Linked DNA regions of Homo sapiens: region 2 is linked to region 1. The links come from fine-mapping of genetic effects on gene expression. A gene starts in region 1. The other region holds a variant in brackets. All regions are shown on one strand. Distances are from middle to middle. Region 1 holds the start of PPFIBP2 (PPFIB scaffold protein 2). Region 2 overlaps PPFIBP2 (PPFIB scaffold protein 2).

Region 1 (5,376 bases):
TGACACTGAGCAAATAACCTCATCAGGTTATATTTGCCCACATACCCTAAGCACAAAAGCTTTCTGGGAGTGCTGCTTGTGTTAGGTTTACTGTGAATGATTCCCAACACACTGAGGCCCTGGTAAATATTCTGGAATCTGGACAGAAGCCATACAGCAGGCAAGCGACTCTGCCACAGCAGGCATGCCCTGTGGCACCGAGGGCAGCATGCCTCTTGACAGGGGCTTCCTCAGTGTTTCCCACGTGTTTGTCCAATTCAGCTAAGTTCGAGTCACAAGTGCAGGCTGTGGTGCCAGTCTGTGTCACGTGCTGAAGCCTCTGTCTTTCCAGGTTGGTCACATGAGAAGGTTTGCTTTGTGTGCTTGCAGCTGTTTTCCTGTCTTTGCCAAGCCCAGGCTGGGACCATAGGCAGTGAAGAGAAAATGTTTTTTTCCATAGCATTTGAGTAGATATTTGGCAGAAGGGAATTACTCAACCCATGGATACAGTGTAATTACCCACAGTTCTAACAGAATGGTACAGAGAGGCCAAATCCTTTGTGGAATGAGACAGGTATGAATAAATAAATGTGATATTACCTGCCCTATTACCTACCTATTTCACAGATAGAAGGAATGTGGGCTGCCTCACAGAGGATAGTGGGGTAGATTTATCAATAGGAGTGAGTCCTGCAACCATAGTTCCTTTGGAGGCACAGAGGGGAGGTTGCCTGAAATGTGCTGTCTAGATTCCACCTGGGATATGATTTGATTGACAGCTCTGCAGGGCACATCTGCCCCAAACAACTCACCTTGGTACCTACCTTAAATCCCTGCAGCTCGAATCACTCTTTTAGGTCAAGACATTTTCTCCAGGAAGCCCCTGTTAAGGGACCACTTTGCTTCTTGTGAGCCAGCGCAGGTCAGTATGCAGGCCTGGGAATGGGGTTTCTTTCAGGTGAACGTTTTAGCTCTGGGGTCTTGTTGGATTTAAGTGAAGACTGACATCGACATGGCCTACATCAGTGGTTCTTAAACTTTGTTGCACATAAGAATCACCTGCGGAGTTTTAACAGTCCTCATGCCGTGGCCATATCCCCAAGACCATTAAATCAGAACCTCTGGGGATGGATCGAGATATCAGTATTTTTAAAGTTCCTTCCCGCAAGTTGGTTCCAAAGTGCAAAGAAGCTCCAGAGCCGGTGACTTAGAACATTTAAAAAGGTAACTGTATCAATTTAAGAACAGGCTAGCAGTTTCTGGGGGCGGAGGTAAGGGGAGTGGCTCCGCTAGGGCAATAAAGGGTGGGATTCGGAAACAGCCATGACCTTGTGTGAACTGTGGCAGCCTGCGTCTACAAAAGTCGCTCTGCTGCTATTTTAAGGAAGTGAAAGAGAACTGAAGGGTGTCCTGTTGTAACACAACTCTTGCGGGCCCCAGCCTTCCCCTGCTGGCTGTGCTTTGGTCTGCTGCTGGCCAGGTTCCCGCAGTGACCACACGTCTCATATTTGCCAGGGTGGGTTAGGTTCTGTTCACATGTAAAATTCTCCTGGGCCTACTGGTCATTTCAGACCGCGAGGGTAAATTTGGTTTGAAAAAGTTGTGTCCTGTGGAGTTTGTCGACACTCCAGCCTGTAGAGAACTAAAGGCTAGGGCTGTGGTGACTCCTGCCAGAGCTGGGGACTATGCCGAGTCCCTGGTGTCGCTGCCATCTGAGGCCTACAGGGATTTTAAACAGCTTAACAGCAGCCAGTCCTTGGAGGCCTGGGCAGGGCCACAACATAGCAGTACAACCAAAACGGGTTCAGGCCACACGCTGGAGGTAGGGGCTGGACCAGATCTCCAGCTTCAGTCCTCCCCAGTTCGAGAACCCATTCCTGTGGTCAGACATTGCCAACGCTTTTCTTGGACCTAAGGTCCCAGACCTTGGCGCTGGGCACAGGGAAATGCTTCCTGACCTCGGCTCTTCATAAGACAGAACTTTTGTTTGGTGCCAACCACTAGAGGGACCTCCACCCCAGGTTGCGAGTGCAGCGCGGCGGGACCTGGGATGATTCGGGGGCTTTCCGACCTGCTTAGGGAGGGCGGCTCAGAGACAACCTCAATTTTGCCTGGATTGCACGCGGGCCGAGGAAGTCGGGATGCTCCGAAGGGTTTCTGCTCTGGGAGTGCCTCTAATGTGGGTTTTCTATGCTTTCTCTCTTCGCAATTCTCGACACCGTTTCCTTCTTCCTCGCTTTCATTCCCTGTGACCGGAGAACGGCGCTGAAGGACTGGAGAAGCCCAGGAGACTGGGAGCCGGAGCGCCGGGTACCCACCCGGGCCTCCCCGCAACCGGAGCTGTGCGGAGGAGGAGGCGCGGCGAACGGGGCGGGGCTCCCGGAAGGGGGCGCGGTCCGCCGAGAGAGGCGGGGCTGGGGCCCGGACGCGCGGCCCAGGGGGTGGGGACGAGGCAGGTTCGAAGGGGCGGGGCTGACCAGGCCGGTCCCCCGGGAACAGGAACCCTGGTGGACGGGTCCCAGCAGGCTTCTTCGGTGCCCGAGAGGGAGCGGGTGCCCAAGGGGGTGGTCCCTGTGGCAGGTCCCGGGGTGGGGGCGCGGCGCTCCGGGAAGAGCCTTCCGCAGGTCCCCGCCCCGTCACGTGGGCGCCGGCCCCGGCCGCTGCGGTCGGTCCGCTGGTTGGTCGGGCGCTTGGTCCGGCAGTTGGTCGGTGGGCCAGTGGCCCGTCGCTCGCTTCTGGGCTCTCATGTTTGAAGGTGGGAGGGACACGGGAGCGGCCCGCACACCTGAGCCGCCCGGAGAGGAGCCTCGGCCCCGTACCCAGGTCAGTGGGCTCTCCCCACACCCCGGGCTTGCCGCGCGGTCGGGGTTGGGATCCCCGTCGGGAGCATTACCTAGGGAGTGGAGCGCCCCCAGAGCTACGAACCACGGGGACGTGTGGGTCAGTGTCTCTGTGAGCCCCGGAGCGTGTCCCAGGCTCGAGGACGGGGACCCTTCTCCAACTCCACTGGCCAGAAGCCTGGGAGGAGGGCAGAACTCCTGTGGGTTGGCTGCGAATCTCCACCCAACCCTGCCTGGGATCCGCGGACAGTCCGCACTCCTGCAGGTGCCAGCGTGGCCCTGGAGATGCGCAGGGAGGTGGGGTCCCTGAGTTCTGTGCGGCGCGTCCCAGCCCTGCTCAGCCCGGGGAGCAGCGGCGTGGACTAGGGAGCCTAAGGAGGTTGCGGAAGCTTTAGGTCTGTCAGCCCAGGCAATTCTCTGGTGGACACAGCGTGTGTCTAGATGCAGGGCCTCGGCTAAAGCCAGTTCTGTAGTGTAAGTGCAAAAATACAGCACACTTTTTAAAATCTAAAGCCGCCGCGTCCCAGTAGACTGCAGGATGGGGACGGTCCTATTTAAAAGTGGGCTCCCTCCTCACCTCATCACATCAGATTCCAGACCCGCAGTTTTTCCTCGGATGAAAATAAGATTATGTAACAAGAGAACAGAACTTCCAGCGTTTGGATAGGATTAAGACAGGCATTCTTGCCAGTGTTTAATCTTCTTAAAAAACGAATCTAATTATATTTTTACTTTTAGAGCAGCCAGATATTTGGTATAGATCCGTGTCCCTTTTCTATATTTTGGTCTACTTCCTGTCTTTCTCTTCGTCTCTCTCCTTTCTCAACCCCTCCTTAATTGATTGTAATACAAATCTGAAGTGTTTTCAAATTTGTAGTGTATTATGTGAAGTTAAATGGTCAACTACAGAAAAGTAGTTGGTTTTCGACATAATTCATCTTCAGCATATTCAGTCTTTCATTATTATAGGTGTATGGAAAGCTGTAAGTGTTATCTAATTTAGAAATTATTTCTCTTTGGCTTAAGAGAGGCAACCCATTTGTACTTTGCTTAAATTCATAGCTAAATAAATTTGAAGTGGGAGATGGGGATGATTGATGAGGTTTTCACTGATTGCATTTATCCATGTTTTATTTAACATATTTCAATTATTAGTAATACTATTTTAAGATTTGGTGATGTGACAGTTGTTAGCTTATTGCTACTGGAGAGATAAGCTGCTTACCATGATGCCTTCTTTACTGGGTAGCTAAGGGAGATGCGCTTTGACTTTAAAAGAGTAAGTGGAATGAGATCAATGACATGAAGGCGGTAGGAACAAAGTTATGGGAATTCCTGTCTTTCATCTGAGCAGGGAAATCTGGGATAATTTTAAGAAAGGGTGATGTGATGGACCTCAAAGGATCCCTCCTGGGGTTTTTGAGGCAGAGAAGGGTAGAGTGTGGCCTGGGCTGTGACAACTGTGTGGGCAGGCAGGCATGGACTCACCATGAGAAGTGGCCAGTGGTCCAGCTTGGCTCTTATGTCAAGTGCTAGTCAGGAAAGCTGGTGACAAGGCTGGAAAATAGTCCCAGCTGTCCAGTACAGAAGTCTGGACTTGGTCTGAAGGCACAGCAGGGGACTGACTGATGGTTCTGTGAACTTCTCAAAGTCAAAGACCTTGGTCCTTGACCCTCCCAATTCCTAGCCTGATACAGAGAAAATCCAGTAAATATTTGTGGAGTGCATGGTCTGACAACACTGTAGAGCAGAGCTTCTCAAAGTTGAGAATCCTGTGGGGATCTTGTTCAAATGCAAATTATGATTCCATAGGTCAGGGGTGGGACTTGACATTCTGTGTTTCTAACAGATTCCCAGGAGCTTGCTGATCATTTCCCTATGTGTAGCAAGGATTTAGAGTAGCAGTTTGCAAACCTGGCTATGCCTCATAATCGCCTGGGGAGTTTTGTAAAACGTTCAGATTAAGTAGTCTGGGATGTTTTTACCAAGTTCCCCCAGGTGATTCTGTTGACAAACCCGAAGGCAACTGCTGCAATGGCAAAGTTCTGGGAGTGTGGTGGGAAGCAAACTCCAAGGGAAAAAGACAGTGGGGGCGGCGAGGCCGGATAGGAAACCGGGAGGCTGATCCAGGGTCAAAGGGATGAGGCCTTATTTTGGGCCTGAGAGAGTGATGAGGTGGGGACAGGTAGGGAGACTTCGGAGAGATAGAATCTGTAGGACAGAGGACTAGGGAATGGGACAGTCTCTAGACTGATTAGATGCAATGAGAAGTGAGGAGGGAGAAACAATGCTGGGAAGATTCAGCTTTGGGCCTGAGGAATGGTATGGCCTTTAGACTGTAATGTTTAAGGTAAAGTTTATGAAAGGTTCTTGTATTGGTTCGAACCCCGAGAGCCTGCCAACAGACAACATGAGGCGGTGTGGGGCAACGTGCTGTTTTAACGAGCGCCTGGGTGCAGGTGGGCTGAGGCCTAAAATGGCGTCAGCACCAAGTGAGGACGAGGCAGGGGTTTTATAGTTTCCTGTAAACAAGAAGTGTCTCAGTCTGATGTAACTT
Region 2 (5,376 bases), 69 kb after region 1:
ATTGGCAGTGTGATAAGAGTATTTTCACTATTCTCTACCCTAAACACTACTGCCAGATTTTTAAAATCTTCTTAAAAAAAAAAACAAAAAAAACAAATTCCCTTTCGTCCTGTGACCCCAGTGATGAGCCCCCCTGGACTCACCCTTAATCTGGAAGAAAAATCAGGCCCTTCGGCTTGCTTGGCCTTTGAGACCATTAGCAGCCCAACCTCAACTTACCTTTTTAGTTTTATCTTTTATATCTACCCTGATGAGCTCCCAAGTGTATTTCTTCCCTTTTCTGAGCTTTTACCACAGATGACCACCTCCTCTCTAACTCTCATCCACTTCAACTGACTCCATCCAGGCTGTCTTTTCCCAGGAAACCTCTGCTGGCCCTCCCTCCCCACCTCCTGTAGCCCAGGTCTGCAGCACTTCCCATCTGCATGGCTCACCCACCCTTTCTCCTGTGCTTCAGCTGAGGTGGTGTGGAGAGCTGGTTTCTCTGAACTCATGCTTTTGAAGGTAGAAACACTATCGTCTTCATTCTCCTTTACAGAGGGCATAGATTCTGGAAGAAGAGGTTCCTGGTGCCAGAGCAGGAGCCCTTGCCCTTTGAGCAGTCCAAGGTGGTGGTGTCTCAGGGCAAAGGGGAGATACTTATGTTCAGAGAGGCATGGAGCTGGAGGGGAAATATTTGCTCAGAAAAGAAATCTTGCTCCAGGGCCTGTGTGGGATGGGATAGTATATACTATTAATATTACAGTTAAGAACATGGAGTCTGGAGTGAGGCCTGAATTAGAATCCTGGCATTGCCACGTTTACCAGCTGTGTGATCCAAGGTAAATTATCTCAAAAGTCTGGATTTCTTTAACTATAAAATAAGGGAGATAATAGTACCTACCACATACAGGCTTTATGAGGACTCAGTAAGATAGTACGATTAGTGCAGTATCATGCATGTAGGAAATACTCAATAACATGCTTGCTATTAACTGCTATTGGTGATTATCAGGAAGGGAGAAGTTGAAAGAGGAACAGATGGAACCAGGTTCTCTCCTAGAATTGCCTCTCAGGCCATTCAGTGCTTCAGCTTTATGACCCTTCCCATACTCCAGATCAAGGTCTCAAACCAAGCATATTGAAGACCTAGAAAAGGCAGCTGCAACCTGGGCCACCATAGGTGACCAGAGGCCTCATTGGCTGCTGGATCTGGCCAGCTTGGCTGTGGTTGCTGAGTGAAGGCTGATCAGGGCTGATGCTCTAGTTCATTCTCCTAACAGACAAAGCCTAGGGATAAGGTAGTCTCTTGCCACAAGTATCCAGAGGGACTCAGTCACAAACAGCTCACACCTGTTCTACATTGAGTCCAGTGGATCCAACCCACACAACCATGAACACACCTCTAAAAATAGCTCCGAGCAGGGTCTGTGGGACCCACCCACTGCTCTTTCGGCAAGAGTTCATTTTCCCAGGAACAGAAATCCCAGACTGTCAGCATCTTCACACTGCTTCCTGGCTTCCAGCACTCTCAGTGCTTAAGCAAATTCCAACTGTAGGTCACAAAGAAAATGGAATCACTACAGGTCCCCCATGCAGTTGGCTCAGGTTCTGCAGTAAAAAGTGGAATTAACTCAAGCTGCTAATGTGAGACTTTATTCTGTGTCATCTGGTGCTCAAATGGTTGATCTAGTAGCCTGGCCACTTGGGCCAGAAGAGCTGCAAAGGCAGACACGGAGGTCTCCTCACTCCAGACACTGACTTGCCTTGCATTCATGTTGGACTGCAGTGAAAGTTACAGAAATAGGCAGCAGCTTCTGTGAAGGCTGTTCCTACTAGTTAAGAGCATGGATCCTGGATCTAGATTCCTTGGGCTCATATCTCACCTCTGTGTAGACTTGGGCAATTTATTTAACCTTCCTAGAATTCAATTTCCTTGATTATATATATGGATAAACAATTCTATAGATAGATAGATAGATAGATTTTTTTTTTTTTGAGACAGAGTCTAGGTCTGTCACCCAGGCTGGAGTGCAGTGGCACAATCTTGGCTCACTTCAACCTCCTTCTCCTAGCTTCAAGCGATTCTCCTGCCTCAGCCTCCCGAGTAGCTGGGATTACAGGCATACACCGCCATGCCCAGCTAATTTTTTGTATTTTTAGTAGAGATGGGGTTTTGCCATGTTAGCCAGTCTGGTCTCGAACTCCTGATCTCAGATGATGCGCCCGCCTCAGCCTCCCAAAGTGCTGGGATTACAGGCGTGAGCCACCGTGCCCAGCCAATTCAATGTATGTTAAGTGCTTAGGAAGCACTTTATAAGTGTTAGAGTTATGGGGAGGATGACATCGATCAGAACTGACAACCTCTGGTTACTCGGGAGCCAGGTACCCAACCTTGATTCTGAAAAGAGAGGTTTTTCAATCCTATGGGAAAGGCAACAGTGGATATGGTCACCCAAGGGCACTAGCTTCCTCAATTTCCTATGATACCTCCTATTTCTGGCCAACACACCCGAGATGCCTGTACATTATGTTTCCTGGTATAATTTAGAAGCTAGAATTCTGCCATCTCTGACATCCAGCACCTGTAACTCCTGCCAGCTCCTTGAAGAGAGGCCTCTTTTACCCAGTGGGATTTAACAAACTGGCATCACACCAGGGTCATTTGCTGAACAACTTGTGGGCACTACAGAGCAGCACAGCCATTGTTGGTTTTGTGGACTGGCAGCAGCACTTAGGGATCCTTTGACTCATCCCTGCTTTTCTCTGTCCCTTCCTCCATAGCAGCTCTTTCACACTTTTCCATTAGTCTTCAACCTTATACTCCCCTTTCAACTGATGTCACTACCAATGTCATAGGAAAAAAAAAAAAAAACCAGCCAAACTGAGATGAGTCTCTTCACCCTCCCTCCCTTTCACCGCAAAATGTAACTGT[A/G]TTTCAGCATCCTGTTTCATGGGCCAGGAGTCCCTTCTCTCAGCCAAGGCTATCCCAGTATCCTGTCCTTGACCCAATCCTGTTCCAGCTCCTCTTGTTGCTCTGATTGTTTCTTCTCTCAGCTCCTCCCTGCCTATCTGTCCCTTGCCCTTGGTGGAAAATGCTTCTCCTCAATTCTCAGGGAAAAAACAAATCAAAACTATCTTTGACCCTGTGCTTGTCTCTTCATGCTGCCTTATAACTTACCTTCCTTTCACTGTTAAGATTCTTGGTGAGTTGTTAGCCTGCTCGTTCATCTCTACTCCCTCCTGGTCACTCCTGAAGCCAGTGAGCACTAACTTTGTTCCTATAGTCATCTTTTAAATTCCTTCTGTAATGTTATTTTTGCTGCCTCTAGTTCCCAGGCAATCTTCCCCATACATTTTCCTTTGTATTCATTTCCATTTGGAAATCTTGTAGGATTAATGGCATTCTTGTGACCCGAGGAGCAGCTCCTTACTTTGGCTCTTGCCTAATTCTGTGTTCTCAAACTTTGGATCTTTCATGCCGAAGAGACACCAGGCTCTAAAGCCTCCAGGGGAGCTAAGACAGTCACAGCGCCCACTCCACCCTAACTGTAGCACCCAGTCCTGCTGCACTGTCTCTGAAGGTGTTTTCAGTAATAATGACTCAGTGCATCTATTGGAGTTGGCAAGGTGAGGACAGTCTTCAAAGAGTCTTCTCTTTTTACTCTCCTCCTGGCTTTCACATCCTCTCATTACAGGATACCAGCACACATACAAATGCTATTTCTGCAGCCCAGTGCTGTAAGCTTTTTATGTGTCCAGCTACCAGATAAAGAGAATTTAGCAGTGACCAAGCTCAGCCAAGGTTATAATTTTGGGGAAAAAAAAAATCTTGGTAAATGTGTTTCTCTACAAATCTAGCTCCCCAGGAAGATCAGTTAGGAGCTTCATCCCAGCCCCTTGGTTGGAGAGCTGATGGCCAGTTTATCTTCAGGGTGTCCTGTGTTTGCTATGTTAGTTCTGGAAGACCAGAATATCTGAAGGGTAGTGATTGTCATAGCTTCATGGGTAGCATGTCTGTATTGGGAAGGCTATTTCCAAAGCTGCTGTTCTCACATTCTCCTAGGGGTATTCCTTTAAAGCCTTCAGACTCAATCATTCAAATGGTGCCTCCACTGTAAAGCCTCTTCTCTCTTTTGAAGGTGAAATGTTTTTGTCTCTCCTCTATGCCCCTGCCATTCATGTGCATACAACTCTTTATGATAGTACTTATTACATCCTGCTGCAAAGGTTGATTTCTTTTTTCCTTCTGTCCTTATTCCCTGTAATACTACAGAGCTTTTTAAGGGCAGGGACTAAATCATTGTTTAGCACAGAAAGTGGCACCTAGTGGGTGCTCAGGATTATTCAAGTCATTTCATAAATACATTCATGACGTGTGATGATGTGAACATTGGTCAACCAAGAAGCTATTTATTTGCTGTTTATGAACTCTGCTTTGTTCTTCCTTAAAAGAGGACATTTAGATCATTGGATGATAGCCTCATCAGCAATACTTAACCTCCCCTTATATATAATTGAGGGGAGGAGGGAATAAGGGTCAAGGTCAGGATAGGCTTTCTCTTGTTGGACTCCTGGTAGCCGAGGATCTGACTGCACTCTATTCACATTGCATTTGGAAGAAATTTCTTTAACACTGTGACAAAGATGGTAGATTGGCTTGACCGTTCTTCACCTAGAAAAAGCAGAACTGGTCCTGGGAATACTCAGGTTTATAATAAATGCCAGAAAGCCCTAAAACTCCTTAATAAAAAAATCTAGGGGAAGTTTTCTTTTTTATAAGAACCTGCCTACACTCATACTACTGGGTTCCCTTGGTGTTGGGTAACCAGAGTCCTGTAACAGGAATTGACTGTAGCTTTTGTGATCCAATCATTTTTGTTTATTTATTTATTTTGGTCCCCTTACTTTTAAGGTTTATGTCTTCTAAGTTTCTAAAAGGGGTTGCATGTGAGTGGTGCTTCTGAGCTTAAGATATAGCCTTAGTAACTTTGATATCTCCCCTGATGCCCTGTGCCTGGCAGCTATGGTTCACTTGTAACTAGTTTTCTGGATTTTGATAAGATCCTCTTGACTAGGCAGCCTGGAAACACTACACATTTTCTTTTGTTTTCTTATTCAGCTAAAAATACATGTCATCTAAATGGCTAAATAAGGAAGAACCATTTTAAGGCTTATCCAGGACAAGGCTTACCCAACGTGCTGTGTTCAAAATCTCAGCGTATTTACAGGCAAAGAGCCATCATATAATTTAACATGCTCTGACCAGTTGGGACAGTGTATGTACTGTGGCCAAGATCCTGAAGGCACTGGAATTTATAGCTTATTAGAAGCACTGAAGGAAATGTAACTCTTTACCTGGCCAAGATGACAACTATTGATATCAAAAAAAGGAAG

Evidence for each region.
Region 2: its variant is fine-mapped to the expression of PPFIBP2 in ovary (GTEx, PIP 0.93).

Annotation. Positions count from the first base shown.
Region 1 is chr11:7,511,320-7,516,695 of GRCh38, forward strand. PPFIBP2 (PPFIB scaffold protein 2) reads left to right here and starts at 2,680. Exons shown (of 24, transcript NM_003621.5): 1 at 2,680-2,802. It overlaps LOC124902806 (leucine-rich repeat extensin-like protein 5), which reads right to left. Exons shown (of 4, transcript XM_047428005.1): 2 at 2,799-3,286; 3 at 804-2,721. The coding sequence ends at 1,891. It overlaps OLFML1 (olfactomedin like 1), which reads left to right. Exons shown (of 3, transcript NM_198474.4): 3 at 1-58. RefSeq lists enhancers at 1,456-1,575, 5,261-5,310 and a silencer at 2,246-2,775.
Region 2 is chr11:7,579,878-7,585,253 of GRCh38, forward strand. All of the region lies in intron 3 of PPFIBP2 (PPFIB scaffold protein 2), which reads left to right. It overlaps LOC105376535 (a long non-coding RNA gene), which reads right to left. Exons shown (of 4, transcript XR_007062579.1): 3 at 1,383-1,532. Among named protein-coding and RNA genes, the nearest start is that of PPFIBP2, 69 kb to the left of the region's middle. The variant A/G (reference allele first, on the strand shown) is at 2,915.